Linked DNA regions of Homo sapiens. The protein of the gene in region 3 interacts with the protein of the main gene of each other region in a pairwise test. Each region holds a gene or a part of one and is shown on either strand. Other genes may lie near its edges.

Region 1 (3,500 bases), on a different chromosome or scaffold from region 3:
GCCCAGGACAGGTGAGTGTCCCTCAGCACCTTTCACCTTACATCTGAGGATAGAACTGCATCTTCTGGGCTGTCAGTAGGCTGGCAAGGGGCATAACTGGGACACCCAAGCACGTGGTCCGTGGTCCCAGTCCAGCTGATGTTTGCTGTAATCAGAGTTTTCTACCACCTAGCCTCATCACGCCTCAGGGCTAGGGCAGAAGGCATGGCAAAAAGATGCTGATGCTCTAGGCTCCAATTCCCCATGGAACCCTAGGCAGCCCTTTTGCCCTGTTTAAACCTCAACCTTCCCCCTATAAATGGAGGAACTTGCAAAGAGTGGTCCTAGAGACCTCTTCCCAAGGTGCCACCTGTCTTGGTGATCTGGACGTGGGCGAGTAGTGAGGTCAGCCTGCCTCCCAGGCAGCAATGATTAAGGACCATGATAAATAAACTGGCAGAGTGAGGGTGCAGGCCCAGTGCTTGCCAGCAAACAAAGCACTGGACTGGACACAGAGTTATTTCAGATCATACTGTAACTGAGCATGGAGCAATGTTGCTCCACACAGCCATGAGGCTTTCTGGCTTATCAAATGTGTACATGGACAGTACCTCACTTAATCCTGAATACAATCCTGCCAATTAGATATGGCTGTTCTCACTGTAGAGACGAGAAGGTAGAGAGGCAAAGGTTTGGAAGCAAAGCAACCTCTACACTGGGTGGACATGGAACACAAAATCACAGTGGACATATTGGACCTACATAGCTTAGTGCAATGATAGAGGTGGCAACAAGTCAAACAGTGCCTGGCACACTGGGACACCTCTACCTTCTGCCCTAACATCTTCCAATCTTCTCAATGTCCCTGATCAGGGCTTTCTGGGAGGCCCTCTGGACCCTGGAGATGGATCCAACAACAGCCTTGGCCTCCCTGCTATATGGGGGCACAGCTCTGGAGGGAGCTCCTAACTCCCTGGGCCTGCATCTGCTCTAGACCCCAACGTGGCTCAAGGCACTCACCCCCAGCCTTCCCTAGCTGCACCATCACGGCTCTGTCTTCTGCTCAGACAGCCCAGCCCGTCTAGCCATGGCCACTTCCCAACTCTGGCAGCTTCGCCCTGGGCCATGGCTGAACCTCGTGTTTCCTTTGCCCATGACCACAGGGAGTCAACTGCCAGTGCTCACTGGCAATCATCCATCTGTTCCAAGGTTGAGAGACCAAAATAGACCTCCTCTTGGTCCTGCCCACAAATAGAGCCTGCTGTGAAGTTCCTTAAATGGAAGCTTATGGGGCAGCTGCCTGGTCTGACTCTGAGACACAGGGTGACACAGGGTGGGGGTAAGGAATCAATTACTCGGGAGGGATGAGAAGCGGGTCCCAGCTCTAGGGAAACATACATTTTCATGTGCTAAAGGCATCTTTGAGGACATGTTCAGAAACAGACAGCAAGAGAAAAAGGCAGTTCCCACAGCCACAGAGGCCAAGTGAGTGGTCATGCCAGCACTGAGCCCCGGCATCCAAAGGGTGAAGCTTTTAGGCGAGCAGCGGCCAGTGATCTCAGCTTCCCCCAGTCCTAATGCTCCTGAAAGGCTCTCTCCTGCTCCCTGTAATTGGGCATCAGTAGTTAATGCAGTATTGACTGCATTACACGCTCCCGTGCCTCCCCTCGCTAATGCCAATTGCATCACCTTGTACAGTCACTGGCTTGCTTAGCCAATAGCCGTTAAAAGCAATCCAAATCATGAATCATATGGGAAACTTTTAGCAAGACACCGCCATCCAAGGAGACAATTTACAGTTGAGTTAATCTGGGTACATTAGCGAGACATGGATTCCGGACGACAGACCAATTTATGTTGTTTCCCTGTCCCCCCTTAGTGCTGCTCTGTGTGAGCAAATGAATGGAAGAGCAGGGAACAGAGAGAAGCACCTGCTTCTTCACCCAAGGCTCGGGTGTGTGTGTGGGGTTGGGGGGCGGGTTACCCATCTTTACAGACACTCTGCCTGGCTAAGTTTGGGCAGGAAGGGGAAGCGGCTGTATGTGCAGCTCAGGATGTGATGCCTCATTCCCAGCAGAAAGGAGGGCTGCCGCTGGGGCTGGTCATGGTAGATGCAGATGGTAACCCTCCCGCTCCCCTGCTTCTAGGCACTGGGCAAGTGCACAATTTGGTCCCCACCCTGCCAGACTCACAAGGCCTTTACCAGGCCTCAGCAGGCAGCAGTGTCCACTTGGCTCCGCCTTCCTGCTGATGGGCTGGGGTCTCTGGCATGGAACAGCATCAGGGCCTGCCTCCCTCTCCAGGGTTGGGACGGTCATGAGCACACTCTGCCAGGAGAGGCCCCTGGGATTCTCTGTGGTCTAGAACATGAGTGTCTATCCTAGGAAATCCTACTGGTGGCCCAGCAAGGGCTGGTTGGTACCCAAGCATAGCCATGCGCCGGCTCTGGTGGATTAACTGAGTCGGCTGTGGAATTTGTGCTCCTAGCAGTCATTAACAATTGAAGACTCCGCTGTCTGGTCCTCCTCAGTCCAGCTTCACTCTCTTGGGCATTTTTACTTATTAAAAATGCCCTAGGAATCATGTCTGGTGTTTAGTTCCACAACCCGCCTGCTGCTTCCTGTGGTCACCCCCACCTTCCTGCTGGGCCTTTGCAAAGGCCGTTTATACCCAGCCCTGCCCTTCTCCTGTGTGCACCTGAGAGCATCCCAGCATCCCCAGCTGGATGCCCCAGCCTCCTCTCCTGCCCAGTCCCCCACAGACCAAAGCTCTCACTGTTCTTGGGCCCTCTCAGACTCTCTGCTGTCTGCTCCTACTCAAAGGCCTCTTCTCGAACAGCCCAGGGGCTCATTTGACTTGGGTAGCATTCAGAGCTGTAGCTCTCCTTGCTCCCTTGGGATTTTAACCCTCCCAAAAAGCTCACCACCTGGTGCCAGCCCAAGCCGCAGGTGCCAGGGGAAGAAGGGCTGTTTCTCCGGGAAAGTTGGAGCTCAGTTCCATTTCGCTGACAGGCAGACCCAGCAGCATGTAGAAAGCCCGGACCCTGAGTTCCAGTAAAGTGGAGATGGCTAGGCCAAGAGCAAGCATCCAAATGAAAGCAATTAATCTTAAAACCCGAAGTTTAACCGTTTGCAAAACAGATCTTTCCGTCTCTGTGGTGACCCTTCACTGCTCGACCTAATGGATTACTTTATTAATAATGCACTGTGCTTAAAAGCAAAAAAAAATTTTTTTTTTCTGACGATTCAATACTTCAGAAAGTCTCTTAAACCCGTTGCTACGGCAAAACGATTGATATTTTATTATCTTTCAGAAGTGCAACATGAAAGCCCTGCAGCCCAGCAGAGCGGGAGCTTTGGTCCTCGGCAGCTGGCAGACCCGACTTCAACCAGAGGAGCCCCAGCCTCTCCAGACAAGATGCTGTCAGGTGGAGAAAAGGCGTTGGGGGTGGTTAATAGCAGCCCTGAGTCCCTGCTGCAGCCAGACAAAAGGTGCCGTATGCAGGGAACGCACCCTTTGGG
Region 2 (3,500 bases), on a different chromosome or scaffold from region 3:
GGATGAAAACACATTTTGTCAGTGTCAAGTTTATATCAGCAGAGCCACCCTGTGCTCCTAAGTCACACCTCGCAGGAATGGGAGGCAGAAAGGTTGCATTTAGAAGGAAAGGATTAGCTCTGGAAAGTGAGTTTGGACATTGAGGCTCCCCAGATCCATAGGGATGATGGATGTTGGCAAGGACAATGGTCACAATATAAGTAACAGATACCGATAACACTGCCTAGCATTTATTGAGTGCCCACTATGTACTAAGTATTGAGTAAATGTTCCAGAGCTGTTATCTTATGGTGGTATTTCTTAAATTTCTCATAACGATCCTATGAGGTAGGCTGCTTCACTGTATTTCCTCGAGTATACAAAGCCATCAATTCAATAAAAGCTTTTCACATCAAAACATATTAAACTTACACAACGAAGTTTTGTTGTGTCATGCTTTTCCTAACAAAATATAGAACATATTCATAACATAACCTCTTTATTCTTCAGGATGATAACGCAAGTTTGAATCGAAGCCTAGATATTCAGAGTCACAGAGTCTCCATGCACAACTGCTAATTGTAAAAAATATATATATAATAAAATTAAAATTAAAAAACAGAGTCAGAAAGTTTCTGGCTCCCTTTCAGCTGTGCCCATGCAGTTCTCCATGTCCCACCTGGGATTTCTTTAGCCCCTTTAGGATGGATGGTATAATTTAGAGCTCAGCGAAGAACAGAGGCTCCTTCCACATCTCCTGTTTTATTAAACTTGTGGCTTTCCCCTTCTTAATTGGATATCTGTCTTTTGACTAAGAAATACTTCACAGTGCATGACAATCACCAACCTTTCCTAGCTTTGAAAATTGTGTGATCTAAACTTAGAGATTTGCCTGAATCTGCACATGTGCTGGCACTGACATCCCAATTTCTCCTGTCTGGTGACTGACAAGGTTGTTATTGTTTAAGCATTGATTATTAGATGCTATCCTATTACTTTAAAAAAAAAATGTGCCCAGTCCGGTGGCTCACGCCTATAATCCCGGCACTTTGGGAGGCCTAGGCAGGTGGATCACCTGAGGTCAGGAGTTCGAGACCAGCCTGGCCAACATGGGAAAACCCCATCTCTACTAAAAATACAAAGATTAGCCAGCCAGTCATGGTGGTGCTCACCTGTAATCCCAGCTATGTGGGAGACTGAGGTGGGAGAATCATTTGAACCCGCGAGGTGGAGGTTGCAGTGAGCCAAGATCATGCCACTGCACTCCAGCCTGGGCAACAGAGTGAGACTCTATCTCAAAAAAAAAAAAAAAAAAAGTTTAAGGGTGTCTTAGAATTAGTTTGTAACACTGAAGGTTAAAGATATTAAACAGTTTACCTTCCATGTCATAGCTGGCAGGTGATGTAACTAGAATGCACACCAAGTCGGCTGGGTACTTCTCAACATTAAGGCTGTAATGACTTTCTCCTTCTTTCTCTCTTGAATCTTCTCAATGAGGCCTTCCTTCCACCATTCCTCCAAAACTGCTCTTGTCAAGGTTACCAAAGATCTCCACATGGCCAAATGCATTGACTAATTCTCAATTGTTATCTTACTTTCAGCAGCACTTGACAACTTTTTTTTTTGAGACAGGAACTCAGTCTGTTGCCCAGGCTGGAGTGCAGTGGCGTGATCTCAGCTCACTGCAACCTCCGCCTCCTGGGTTCAAGCTATTCTCATGCCTCAGCTTCCTCAGTAGCTGGGACTACAGGTGCGTGCCACCATGCCCAATTTGCCTGGCTAATTTTTTATATTTTTAGTAGAGACGGGGTTCCACCATGTTAGCCAGGCTGGTTTCAAACCCTTGACCTCAAGTGATCTGCCCACCTTGGCCTCCCAAAGTGCTGGGATTACAGGCTTGAGCCATTGCGCCTGGCCATTTGACACCATTTTTAGGAAACAATTTCTTGACTTGGCTTTCTTAGGTCTTCTATATCGACATCACCCTGAAAACCTTCTCTGCTGCTCTTTTTCACTTCTCCTAACCTGCCTGACCTCCAGATGCCGAGTGCTCCATGTTAACCATCCTCAGGCCTCTCTTGTCTTTCTGCATCCGCTCTTTGGTGACCCCATCTAGTCTCATAGCCACTTCCACACTCCCAGCTCTGACAAGTGCATCTGCAGCTCCCAGCAGCTGCCCACTCACCCTCCTGCCTACTCTCCATCACTCCCTGGATGCCAAATAGGCTTTGCAAACTGAATGTCTTCAACCAAACTCCTCTCTTTGGCATTGTCCCTGACTCCTCTCTTTCGCTCACTCCCTACATCTGATCCTTTAGCAAGTCCTGTCAGCTCAACCTCAAAATTACATTGAAAACTGTTTTTTAGAGACAGGGTCTCACTGTGTTGCCCAGGCTGGTCTTGAACTCCTGGCCTCAAGTGATCCTCCTGCCTTGGCCTCCCAAAATGCTGGGATTACAGACGTGAGCCACCACCACATCTAAATCCACAACTACCACCCTAGACTATTAGCCTGTAATTGGCCACCACTTCTATCCCCCGTCTCCTCAATAAGCTTCTTCCCCACCCGGAAGCCAGAGTGACCTTCCCCAACCTAAGGCAGATCAAGGTGTCAGCTGCTTAAAGCCATCCAGGGGCTCCTTGTCTCAACCCAAGCAAAGCCAGAGCTCTTTGAGCTGCACAGCCTCCTTGTTCTCTGATGTCTGCTGGCTCCTGGTTTCTGTTTCTCCTTCCCAGCCTTGCTAATTGTTCTCCAGCCAGGCTGCTTCCCATGTGGGTCTCACACAGCCAAGCCCCCTCTGCCTCAGGGACTCAGGCTTTTATACTTGGGGTTTCTTCTGGTACCCCTCTCCCCCTAGATTTTCATATGACTTGCACCTCATTTTCTTTTCTTCTTCTTCTTTTTTTTTTTTTTTTTTTTTTTTGAGTCAGGCCCAGGCTGGAGTGCAGTGGCACAATTGTGGCTCACTGCAGCCTTGATCCCCGGGGCTCAGACGATTCTCCCACCTCACCCTCCCAAGTAGCTGGGATTACAGGTGTGCACCACTACGCCCGGCTAATTTTTGTATTTTTAGTAGAAATGGGGTTTCTCTAAGTTGCACAGGCTGGTCTCGAACTCCTGGACTCAAGCAATCTGCCCACCTCAGCCTCCCAGAGTGCTGGGATTACAGGTGTGAACCATCATGCCTGGCTGCCCCCTCATTTTCTTGAAGCCTTTTAAAATGCTACCCTAACAAAAGAAGACCTTCCTGCATAAAACAGCCACCTCCCAGAATTCTGTTCTGTCCTCTCTGCTCCAGTTTCCCCCGCAGCACTGGTACCCGCAGCACTGGTACCCGCAGCACTGGTACCACTTGCTATAGTATACATTGGTTTGCTTCTGGCCTCTCCACACCACTGTAACCCTAAGTTCCAGGAATGCAGGGACTGTGACTGTTTTAGTCACTTGCTGGGTCCCGAGTGTTTAGAGTAGAGGCTTGCATGAAGTGGGCTCCCAGTGAATGTTTGTTGAATTATCAGAC
Region 3 (3,500 bases):
TCTTTTGATCCACACCAACAACCTGAGAGCAAGAAAATGCTGGTCAAGTGCAAAGTACCTCTGACGGGAAGGCACAGCCCACCCACAAGTACGTCTCACAAATTGAGGAATTAATCTATAGAAATATTTGCAGGAACACAATGTTGGCTTCAAGTTGAAGATGGGGCTGCTGGCCGGGCGCAGTGGCTCACGCCTGTAATCCCAGCACTTTGGGAGGCTGAGGCGGGTGGATCACCTGAGGTCAGAAGTTCGAGACCAGCGTGACCAACATGGTGAAAACCCATCTCTACTAAAAATACAAAAATTAGCTGGATGTGGTGGTGAGCGCCTGTAATCCCAGCCACTCGGGAGGCTGAGGCAGGAGAATCATTTGAACCCGGGAGGTGGAGGTTTGCATTGAGCCATGATCGCACCACTGCACTGCAGCCTGGATAACAGAGCGAGACTCCATCTCAAAATAATAATAATAATAATAAAAAGAAGAATGAGCTGCCTAGCATTACTGGGCTATAAAGGTCACAGAATCCAGGAGGCCTCATGATGTAAAGAGCACAAGCATACAGGCAACACAGGGAGTAGAGGCAGGGTCCACAGCTCCTTCCTCTAAACACAAGTTGTGTACGGGACCTTATCTCCTAATGACATGTGAGTGCTATGTAGAAGCATATGGACTGGGCGCGGTGGCTCATGCCTGTAATCCCAGCACTTTGCAAGGGTGAGGCAAGTGGATAACCTGAGTTCAGTAGTTGGAGACGAGCCTGGCTAACACGGTGAAACCCTGTGTCTACTAAAAAAAGAAAAAATTAGCTAGGTGTGGTGGTGCAGGCCTGTAATCCCAGCTACTTGGGCGGCTGAGGCAGGAAAATCACTTCAACCTGGGAAGCAGAGGTTGCAATGAGCCAAGATTGTGCCATTGCACTCCAGCTTGGGCAACAAGAGCGAAACTCCATCTCAAAAAATATAAATATAGAAGCATATGTCAAGACCAAGAAAACATGAGTACAACACAGCAGAGGGTGGTCATGGATGGTTTAACATAGGGCATACACTTCCTAATATGTAATCGATACACCAATATCAGAGACAAGTGCAGATGAAAGCACAAGAAAAATGGGTGAGATGTGAGTATTAGTGCTGGGGTGGATATCACAGTAGAAGTGAAAAGGTACAGAACTAACACGTGTGAAACTCTCAACAATGGGGAGAAAAAGACAAATAGTGTGTGCCTACTCATATTGCCACAAAAACACTTGGCAAATATAAATGGTTTCTGGTATGATTTGGATAAACCCCTGAAGTCATGCCCTCCCCCAGCATGGCACTCCTGAGGGACAGGCTCCCTTTGAGCCTATCGTGATGAGCCTGAATTGAACCACATCTTGTCAAACATGGAGGTCTCTCCATCTCACACCCAGTACATAGGACCCGACGATGTAACTATGAAGGGAGAGACAGCAGAGATGAACAGCCAACACTAGCTCAGGACAACTAAGCACCTGACAGCCCACAGGAGAGTAAGGTAAGTATTACAAAAGAATTCCTAAGCAGGGTCTTGCAAGAAGAGTCTATGGTCTATGGTCTATGTAGGTAGTGACAATGTCAATGAAGGCAATTCTTGGCACAGGGAGGCACAAAGCATTGTCAGATAGAGGAAGGAAGTGTTAATAGAACCTGGGCACACAAGAGCTACCGATTTGGACAGTCACCTGACAGCCAGAGAGCAGGCAAAGTGGATACACTTAGGTGCCTATTAGACTCCTGACTCTGACTCCTTCCCTGGGAGCCTGGAGCAAAGCAGGTGTTGGAGGTGCTTAAGGAAAGGAAAAGGCAATACACACAACTTACATAGAGAAGTGTAGAAGGAACCTGTGTCCAGGCTCCTTAAGTGAGAAAGACAGTCCTGTCAATGAAAAACAGGGGAACAGTAACACTAGCTCAGGTCACAAAGGTGAGCGTGAGCAACTTACCCAGCGAGGATATGAGAGCCAGGTTCTCTAGCATCACATCACGGTACAAGCACCTCTGAGCCTCACTAAGAAGACACCACTCCTCCTGGGAAAAGTTCACAGCCACATCTTCAAAGGTCACAGTGCCCTGCTATGATAGTGACAGATGAAACCACAAACAGCCCCTCTGCTGAGGTACCACAACCCACCTCTCCCACACACCCACACTTGCCCATCCTCCTCCCAAGGTCCCCAACATAGTGTTGAAACTATGTCCACTAGTGCCTTTGTCTCTTCATGGGCCCACTGGTCAATTGCCATCAGCAATAAGCAGTAAGTGGACAAATAGGTATCCATGCTGAGGTCCTGACATAAAAAGGTCCATCCCCTTCTGAATAGCGATATCCAAGCTCATGTAAAGCCCAGGGCAGCTGCCTGAGCCCATTGGACAAACTCCCTCTCTAAATATACATCATTCTTTATACTGCAAAGACACATCCCCATGGCCACCCCTACCTGAGTTTTCCCTACCATCAGCCTCTCTCTGGCATCCCCACAAATAGAACTTTGTTTTTTGGGGTTTTTTTTGAGACATAGTCTAGCTCTGTCACCCAGGCTGGAGTGCAGTGGCATGATCTTGGCTCTTTGCAGCCTCCGCCTCCTGGGTTCAAGTGATTCTCGTGCCTCAGCCTCCCAAGTAGCCGGGATTACAGCCACGCACCACTATACCCGGCTAATTTTTGTATTTTTTTTTTTGGTAGAGAGGGGGTTTCACCATGTTGGCCAGGCTGGTCTTGAGCTCCTGGTCTCAAGTGATCCATCCGCCTTGGCCTCCAAAAGTGAGATTACAGGGGTGGGTCACTGCACCCAGCCCCCACAAATAAAATTATTTCACAAGATGAAGAGGGTATAACGGCCCATGATTCCCTTGGGAATATGCAATGGTTTGTTTCCATAACTCTGCTGGTAGGGATGGAATTGAAACCCACCACAAAATATAACAACCTGGAACCCTGCCTTATCACCTTGATAAAACGGGCTGTTAGGCTAGGATACATTATTCAAGAGAGCAGAGTGGGAATGAGATTTGTACTCACACCTTTTAAGGTTGTCCCACTTTCACAAGATGTCAAAGTGACACATCATATTGGGCCTTCAATTCTGGCCTTATACCAAAATGTGGATAAGCATCCAGACTATGCTTGACAAATACAAATAGGATCCAATATTAACACAGAATTTCCATGGTTTACAATAGCAGTGGTAATCCCAAATCATCCTGTGAACGTCTCCCGGAATGACTCCATAGCCACACAGAACCACATATGGCTTCAGATATCCATGGACCTATTTCACTTTTGTGCTGCACCAGCTGAGACCTCAGCTGTAGCAACCCTCCTCTGTCCATCTAATGCTGTTTAAAGCCCAGCCCCTGGATTTGTGAACCAAACCACATCTACTATCACAGATGAGCATATTTTTCACTGCCCACATGCACCAAGCTGAATGAAACTCTCCAGGCACTCCCAAAGTCATCTCAAAACGTTTATGAAT
Region 4 (2,563 bases), on a different chromosome or scaffold from region 3:
CGGATCTGCACCGCAGGCTTCTGTGTCTCCCACAGCCATTGGCATAAGGAAACACGGACACGGACTACTGGCCCTCAGTGTGCCGTGTGAGCATCCACGCTCCCTCCCACGAACACATGGGGTTCTTGACACAAACTCGCAGGAACGAGAAGGTAACATGGGTCGGGCCCACCCACTGTGTCTCACCACAGATCAGCCTTCTTCCCAACATCAGTGCAGTCTACAGCGTGTCTACTGATTATAGCTAAGCACTTCTTCACTAACCAGTTAGAAAAGAAACCCCAAAAGGCTTTCCATGACAGCCTCGAGAAATTCCGGATTATTTAGCATGTAGATCTCACCTGGTATGTGTTTTATTTCATGCCCTAAGATAAAAAATATTATTTCATTTATACTCAAAGTGGTGGATGGATATTAATCTTTACCTCCAAGATGACTAGCAGATTTATAAAGAAAAAGAAATTTAAAGAACTTCCACAAGAAATAAGTTACACCAAGAATACTGTTATCACTACAAATTTTATTCAGAAACCCATCTTTGTATGTTTTTTTTTTTGTTGTTTTTTAAAAAAAATTCCCCTTATGAACTGGTTTGGTCAATCAACTACAACACTTTCTAGCAGACATAAGGTAAAAATGGCATGGCTCAGAATCGCCCAGATCTTTCACGATCTCTCGACCGCCTCCTGTCACGCTCCCGTCCGCCGCCACCTCCACCACCGCCACCGCCACCGCCACGACCACGGTCTCTAGACCGAGAACGACGCTCCCGGGATCGGGATCTTGATCTATGCCTGCAACCAAGGAAAATAAAGAAAACCGTGCCATCCAAACCACGGCACGCAGCACAGAACCACACCCACTCTCTCAACACGCGCAGCTCCTCAAGCCAACGGCACTGATAAGGAAAAACACTGCTGAAGAGACTGCACGCCGTGACTGAGACACACCCTGATTTCAGGTGTGAAAAGTTTCAGGAGAAAAAAATGTGCAACTTAGAAGTGAACAGGTGTAATACCTTGCATCTTCTGTCTTCTTCTAGAACCAACTCAAATGGTCACAGGAAATCATAATCAAAATGAGCTGGACACATACCATCTTCAACCCTCACTGACCCCACGCTTCAGGCGCTCATAGCTACTGTGTCCATCAGGTTTTTGGGCTGGGGAGAGCAGGCCTGTTTTTCTCTTATGCTTCTTGAATGCTGACAATAAAACAATCGCCACCCATCTATTTACTAGTCCATGTTTAACAGAAGAGGGATGAGAACCTCTCCAGACTCAGAACTCAATCGGTTCGATTCTGACGTCTTGATTTTCTCTGCTCTGTGACCTGTCGTACATTTAAATGTAGGATCAGAGAGATGTGACCGCTGGGCCTGATTCTGCCAGTGTCCCGAAGGGAGGATGCCAGCGATCCCAAGACATAATGAAATGCCCTAAAACCAACAAGCAAAACCAAAAGAAACCCCAGTGGACATGTGAAATATGTAAAGCAAAAGCTTGTCCAACCTGCAGCCCAACACAAATTCATCAACTTGCTTAAAACATTATGAGATTTTTTTTGCAATTAAAAAAAAAGTTATCAGCTATCATTAGTGTATTTTATTTGTGACCCAAGACAATTCTTCTTCCAATGTGTCCCAGGGAAGCCATCCCTGATCTAAAGGAGGTTACAACATCTATTCTTCTTCTTCGTAATATCTGGGAGAATAAACTGCATGCCCACTTTCACCACGAGCCTCATGTCCGCGGCTGCCCAGCTAACCGCCCTCTTGCTTGATTACTAAGATCTGATCTCTACTTGAGAAGTTGGATAATGAAGTTACCTGTGTGCAGGTGAATATTCTTCTCCAAAGAGGACATTTGGATATTTAAAAATATGTACTATGTTCTAAGCACTGCCTTTTAAAAAACAGAAACAACACCTATGCCAAAATTTTTTTTTTGGAAGGGGGAGGGTTGTGAGGGGAGAAAGAAGCCACTGAGCTTAACAACGGGCACAGGAATACTCACTTCTTGCGACGGCGGCCATACAGCTCCCGCCGCAGCTCTCTGGAAATGGGCTTCAAATGCATGAAGTTGCAGAAGCCGCCTCGTGTGCATTCTCTGTGGGTGGGTTGGAAGGAGACATTTACTACCTCGTGTGCACACGGCCCCGAACTGTGCTCAGTCACGTCACTGGCCACTCCTCACTCACCCCATCTCATACTGACGGCAGCAGGCTTCTCTGAAGTCCGTCACGGGTGACAGCTCGGCGTGGATCGGCTGTCCATTAAACCAACGGTTATTCAAGTCAATCACAGCCTTTTCCGCATCTTCCTCACGGCGAAACTGAAAAGACAAAAACAGAAGTGCTTGCCATCCACGCTTTAATAAGACTTTCTCAATTACCAATCCAAGTATGTATCAGAGAGAGATATACACACTCAGGTATAGTAAGGTGGAATAGTATTACAGGATAATTGAAAAATCCTTTATTTTCAATGAGATTAACTTCAAGATAGTCCAAGATTTTGCCAAATGTTGCCTTCATTTTTCAAATTCAACTGGTTAAAGGAGCA

The links. Proteins that work in one complex are often made in the same cells at the same time.
Region 1: the proteins of ZNF417 (region 3) and LMO1 interact in binary tests that used the Homo sapiens proteins (3 or more experiments, as listed by UniProt).
Region 2: the proteins of ZNF417 (region 3) and LZTS1 interact in binary tests that used the Homo sapiens proteins (3 or more experiments, as listed by UniProt).
Region 4: the proteins of ZNF417 (region 3) and splicing factor U2AF 35 kDa subunit-like protein interact in binary tests that used the Homo sapiens proteins (3 or more experiments, as listed by UniProt).

What each region holds. Positions count from the first base shown.
Region 1 is NC_000011.10:8,257,379-8,260,878, forward strand, and holds part of LMO1 (rhombotin-1), read right to left. Parts: intron 1-3,500. UniProt on the Homo sapiens protein: May be involved in gene regulation within neural lineage cells potentially by direct DNA binding or by binding to other transcription factors.
Region 2 is NC_000008.11:20,255,464-20,258,963, reverse strand, and holds part of LZTS1 (leucine zipper putative tumor suppressor 1), read left to right. Parts: intron 1-3,500. UniProt on the Homo sapiens protein: Involved in the regulation of cell growth. May stabilize the active CDC2-cyclin B1 complex and thereby contribute to the regulation of the cell cycle and the prevention of uncontrolled cell proliferation. May act as a tumor suppressor.
Region 3 is NC_000019.10:57,910,093-57,913,592, forward strand, and holds part of ZNF417 (zinc finger protein 417), read right to left. Parts: intron 2,098-3,500; coding exon 1,968-2,097; intron 23-1,967; coding exon 1-22. UniProt on the Homo sapiens protein: May be involved in transcriptional regulation.
Region 4 is NC_000021.9:6,484,123-6,486,685, forward strand, and holds the end of splicing factor U2AF 35 kDa subunit-like protein, read right to left. Parts: intron 2,334-2,563; coding exon 2,200-2,333; intron 2,109-2,199; coding exon 2,016-2,108; intron 795-2,015; coding exon 647-794; 3' UTR 501-646; downstream 1-500. UniProt on the Homo sapiens protein: Plays a critical role in both constitutive and enhancer-dependent splicing by mediating protein-protein interactions and protein-RNA interactions required for accurate 3'-splice site selection. Recruits U2 snRNP to the branch point.